Regions from separate parts of the Homo sapiens genome. Here region 1 is linked to region 2. A link means that fine-mapping ties the variant in region 2 to the expression of a gene that starts in the linked region. Tissue or cell type: whole blood. Region 2 holds a variant in brackets; the other region holds the start of a gene. All regions are shown on one strand. Distances are between the middles of the regions.

What was found. PIP is the estimated chance that this variant, and not a neighbour inherited with it, causes the effect. A credible set is the group of variants that fine-mapping cannot tell apart.
Region 1: it holds the start of TMC6, and the variant in region 2 is the best candidate, but not a certain one, in a credible set for the expression of TMC6 in whole blood (INTERVAL, PIP 0.83).

The regions. Positions count from the first base shown.
Region 1 is chr17:78,127,579-78,130,225 of GRCh38, forward strand. TMC6 (transmembrane channel like 6) reads right to left here and starts at 1,177. Exons shown (of 20, transcript NM_001127198.5): 1 at 1,034-1,177. RefSeq lists an enhancer at 1-60 and a silencer at 741-1,270.
Region 2 is chr17:78,159,130-78,161,969 of GRCh38, forward strand. C17orf99 (chromosome 17 open reading frame 99) reads left to right here. Exons shown (of 5, transcript NM_001163075.2): 3 at 1,826-2,125. It also overlaps the pseudogene EIF5AP2. Among named protein-coding and RNA genes, the nearest start is that of SYNGR2, 8.0 kb to the right of the region's middle. RefSeq lists an enhancer at 781-940 and silencers at 1,161-1,210, 1,251-1,300. The variant A/G (reference allele first, on the strand shown) is at 1,654.

The DNA.
Region 1 (2,647 bases), 32 kb before region 2:
GGAACCAGAGCAGCCTTGTCTGGGGCCCTGGGCTCGGGGCCCGTTCATCTGTGAGAGTGGAGCCAGGACTCAGCTCCCAGCCACCAGCGAGTCCTGCCGGCCTCTGCCCTGGACTCCTCCTGCGCTCACCCTCAGGAACTCAGGGCTCAAAGTCGGCCGGGTTGAAGGGCGCTTTCCTCGGACAGGCAAAGCCCGGGGGCGCCCCGACAGAGCAGCTCCTTGCAGGGGTGCCAGTCACAGGACCGGACGGCGCCCTCCCTCAGTGTCCTGGGTGCCATCTTCGGGCCCAGGCCCCACACCACCCCCTCCCTCCAGCAGGAGCAAAGACGTGGGAAAACCAGCCCAGAGCTGGGTCCGAGGCGGCCCCACCCAGCCTAACACGGGACAGCTGCCGAAAGAGGGGCTGAGGACGCCCCACCCAGTCCCTAGAGCTGGAATCCCTTCCTCCAGACAGGCCCTTCTAAGCTCAGGGAACCCGGGGACTCGGGCACCCAGCGCCCCAGCACTCCGCCCCGAGGCCCAGGCAAGTCCAGCGGAGTTTCCAGGCGCACCATTCCTGAGCTAGGTGGGGAGAGGCTGGGTGGCGCCCGTTTCCAGGAACCCCCACCCCAGCCGGCAGCGAGCTTCCCGGGAGCAGCCGCTACCCAGGGAGAACCGCAACCTGGCCCCAGAGCCCAGAGCGGCTGCAACTCTGGGGCCACCGAACCCGTCCAGCCGGCCTCCCTGTCCCCCGCCCCTTCCCATCCCGGCCACACCCCCTCCCCTCCCCTCCCCGTGCCCTGGCGCTCGGCTGGGGGACCTGGGTGGGGGCTGCGGATTTTGCTCCCCGCACTGTCCTCCCCGCCCCTGCCGCTCCCAGCTCTGTCCGAGCCGGAGGGTCAAGCCCTGGGAGCTCCAGGAGCACCCGGGGAGGGAACTCGGCTGCCAAATGGCCCCAGAGGCCGAAAGGAATTCAGGGGGGATTGCCGCTGTCCCCGCATAGGAGAAGCAGCTGGGGCTGGCGGGACCCGGGACCGGGATCGCGGCCGCTCACCTGGGAGGCGCCGGGGAGGAGGGGCCGCGCGCGCAGCCAGGGCTCACCTGTGCCCCGCAAGAGCCGCCGGGAACTGAGGTCTCGGCTCTCCTTGCCAAGGGAGTGGCAAAGGGCCCCAGGGGCGACTGGGCCAGTCGCAGGTCTGCCGGGGCCGGGGGAGTAGCCGCACCTCCCGGCCCACGTGGGCGGGGGGGGGGGGGGCGGGCCTCGGCTATCACGTGACCCGGCCCGGCCCGCGGCGCCCCCGCCCTCCTCCGGGCGCCCCGCGGCGACTATGCCTTCCTCCCCTGCCAACTTCCGACCCCTCCTCCTGAGGTCTGAGCTGGGCTGGATTCATTCCAGCCCCTGGTTGAAGTCCCCAATTTTTCTGACGCTCAGTTTCCCCAAGTTCCAAAAAGGGGCAATATTTCCAGACTCATCTGCTTCCCATGGTTAGGGATCGTCCAAGTAAGATGCCGCCGAAAGCCCCAGGGACACAGAGTATCTCACTCCAGATTGGGCAGCGCCCCCCCCCCCGCCGCCCCCGCAAGCCTCCTGCTGACTCTCCCCGACCCCGGCGGGGGGAGCCTGGTTATCTCCCACTCCTGACACCTGGGCGGGGTTCATTGTTTATCTAGCAAGAGTTCTGGCTCACTTCCTGTGTGCTGTGTGGAGAGGAGGGGATGAAAAGGAGGACACGCTGACACTTAGGTGACTGTCCCCAGGTGCTGTACCCGTTGCCCTGTTTTCTGTTATTCCCCATGAGCCAGGAAGGTATGCACTGATATTCCCATTTCACAGATGAGGAAACTGAGGCTGAGAGAAGTTAATCACCCTTTAGGGTGCCCCCAGCCAAAGCAGGAGACTTAGTGGTCCACCTGGGAACTCTATGGAGGAAACTGCCTTTGAGATTGTACCCCCCACCCCAAGCCCATTTGGAAGGGAGGGTCATTCCTGGCGGGGAGAAGCCATGAAGCAGGCAGGGTGAATGTGAGCTGGGGCCCAGGAGGGCAGGAGAGGGCACTGCTGCAGGGGAGAGCAGGCAAGCAAAAGCGAGGACCAGGCAGGGGTCAAGGCTGGGGCCTTTTGGAGCTGCCAGTGTGGTCCTCAGATGGCTACCCCAAGCTGGTTCTTGGCAAGTGGCACCCTGGCATGGAGACCCAGCCCCTGCCTCTCCTCCCACTGCTTCCCCCTCCCTGCATACCCACACTGAATTTGCATGAATGCCACCTCCTCTGGGGAGCCTCCCCAGATTGAACCCTGGTGGAGCACCTACCACTTCCTATTGACATGTACATCTGTGGTTCTGTGCCCCCTCCTACCCCAGCCCACTGTGTGCCCAGCACCAGCACATAGCTTGCGCCTGACACACAGAAAGGACTCTGGAAACCAGGAAGGAGGTGGGCAGAGAGGCAGAAAAGCTATGAACATTCAGACCTGAGATGACTGGGCCCTATAGCAGGTAGAGAGGGAGCAGAGAGGAAGGGCTGCGGGCTTCCCAGGGGCCCAAGGACAGAGAATTGGCAAAGATATGTCTTAAACATCTAGCCTGGGAGAGCATGAATGGAGCCAATTCCTGAGCACTTACTACCGGCCAGGTGCTAGGCCTGGGTCTTGGCACAACCATAACGCCAA
Region 2 (2,840 bases):
ATATGATTTAAAAAAAAAAGGAAAAGAAAAAACCCCGTCTCTACTAAAAATACAAAAATTAGCTGGGCATGGTGGTGCATGCCTGGAGTCCCCACTACATGGTAGGCTGAGACAGGAGAATCGCTTGAACCCAGGAGGTGGAGGTTGCAGTGAGCTGAGATCGTGCTACTGCACTCCATTCTGGACGACAGAGCAAGACTCTGTCTTTAAATAAATAAATAAAAGTGGGCCGGGCGCAGTGGCTCACATCTGTAATCCCAGCACTTTGGGAGGCTGAGGTGGCCAGACCACCTGAGGTCTCGAGTTCAAGACCAGTCTGGCCAACATGATGAAACCCCATGTCTACTAAAAATACAAAAATTAGCCAGGCGTAGTGGTGGGTGCCTGTAATCCCAGCTACTCTGGAGGCTGAGGCACGAGAATCTCTTGAACACGGGAGGCGACAGTGCAAGACTCTGTCTCAAAAAAAAAAAAAAGTGATAATTCAGCAGCATTTAGTGCATCCATAGTGTTGCTCAACCACCACCGCTATCTAGTTCCGAGAGATTTTCATCACCCCAAAAGGAAACCCCGTATCTATTAGGCAGTTACTCCCCATTTCCCCCTCCCCTGGGCCCCAGTAACCACCAATCTGCTTTCTGTCTCTGTGGGTTCTCCTGTTCTGAACTTTGCACACACATGGAATCATGCAACCGTTGCCCTTTGCGTCTGCCTTTTTGTTTAGTGGAATGTTGTTACGGCTCATCCCTGTTGCAGCCTGCATCTGTGCTCATTTCTTTCTAAGGCTGAGTAATATTCCTTATATGGATCAACCACATTCTATTTACCCATTCGTCCATTGATAGATATTTGGGCCGTTTCCACCATTTGGCTGTGGTGAATCACGCTGCCATGAGCGTGTGTGTACAGGTATCTGTTTGAGTCCCTGTTTTCTATTATTTGGTGTATGTCTAGGCCTGGAATTGTTGAGTCATATGGTAAGTCTGTTTAACTTTTTGAGGAACCACTAAATCAGTATTTTCTTTCTTTCTTTTTTCTTTACTCTGAGGTCTACTGGTTTCACTTATTTATTTGTAATTTTTAGGTTCAGGGGTACATGTGCAGGTTTGTTATAGAAGTAAATTGCAGCCGGGCGCGGTGGCTCACGCCTGTAATCCCAGCACTTTGGGAGGCCAAGGCGGGTGGATCACGAGGTCAGGAGTTTGAGACCAGCCTGACCAACATGGTGAAACCCTGTCTCTACTAAAAATACAAAAATTAGCCAGGCGTGGTGGCACGCGCCTGCAGTCCCAGCTATTCGGGAGGCTGAAGCAGGAGAATCACTTGAACTCAGGAGGCGAAGGTTGTGGTGAGCAGAGATCGCGCCACTGCACTCCAGCCTGGGTGACAGAGCAAGACTCCATCTAAAAAAAAAAAAAAGAGAGAGAGAGAGAGAACATGCTAAACCCAGCATCCTTTTTCTTTTTTTCCTGAGTCTCCCTCTGTCGCCCAGGCTGGAGTGCAGTGGTGTGATCTCGGCTCACTGCCACCTGCCACCTCCGCCTTCCTGGTTCAAGAGATTCTCCTGCCTTAGCTTCCCGAGTAGCAGGGATTACAGGTGGGCACCACCACGCCCGGCTAATTTTTGTATTTTAGTAGAGACAGACTTTCACC[A/G]TGTTGGCTACACTGGTTTTGAACTCCTGACCTCAAGTGATCCGTCCACCTGGACCTCCCAAACACTGGGATTACAGGTGTTTGCCACCGAGCCTGGCCAAACCAGTACCTTCTTAAGGTGCTTGATCAATGTCGGTTTCTTTCTTCCTCCTTGGACCTTTTCATCTCCCAGAAATTACCCCTGTGGTCTCCATTGCCTACAAAGTCCTGGAAGTTTTCCCCAAAGGCCGCTGGGTGCTCATAACCTGCTGTGCACCCCAGCCACCACCGCCCATCACCTATTCCCTCTGTGGAACCAAGAACATCAAGGTGGCCAAGAAGGTGGTGAAGACCCACGAGCCGGCCTCCTTCAACCTCAACGTCACACTCAAGTCCAGTCCAGACCTGCTCACCTACTTCTGCTGGGCGTCCTCCACCTCAGGTGCCCATGTGGACAGTGCCAGGCTACAGATGCACTGGGAGCTGTGGTCCAGTGAGTGCGGTGGGGGGCACAGGGCTGAGGAGGCAGGTGGGGTGCAGATCAATGGGGAGCTCTGGGAGTGGGGATTGTGAACCTTGCTGGGGTTAGAGAGAGCCAGGGTGTGAGGGTGTGGACAAGGACAGGCTGCCACCTCCAAGGCCATTCTCAGTCCCTTGGGGCCTTTAATCAGGACTTGCTGTCCCTGGCTGGGGCCCTGAGGGCACAGTCTCCTGGCAGGGGCCTGAGGGCACAGAGGGAAAGAGCCCGATGGTGGCAGAAATGACTGGGCCCCAGTTGTCAGCTCGGACCTCAAGGTGATAAACTAGGCACGTTTGTCTGGGCGCAAATCCCAGCACTGTGGGAGGCCGAGACAGGCTGATCGCTTGAGCCCAGGAGTTCGATACCAGCCTGGGCAACATGGCGAAACCCTGTTCCTACTAAAATTACAAAGATTAGCTGGGCGTGGCGGGGTGCACCTGTAGTTCCAGCTACTCAGGAGGCTGAGGCAGGAGAATCGCTTGAACCCGGGAGGCAGAGGTTGCAGTGAGCCAAGATTGCGCCACTGTACTCCAGCCTGGGTAACAGAGCGTCTCCAAAAAAAAAAAAAAGAAAAAGAAACGAAAAAAAAGTTAGGCACGTTTTGTGCATTACTTCGCTTGATCTTCACAGCAGTGTCAGGGGTGGGGTCTGAGCCTCTGGGTCTATAGCTATGTAAGCTAAAACTCTG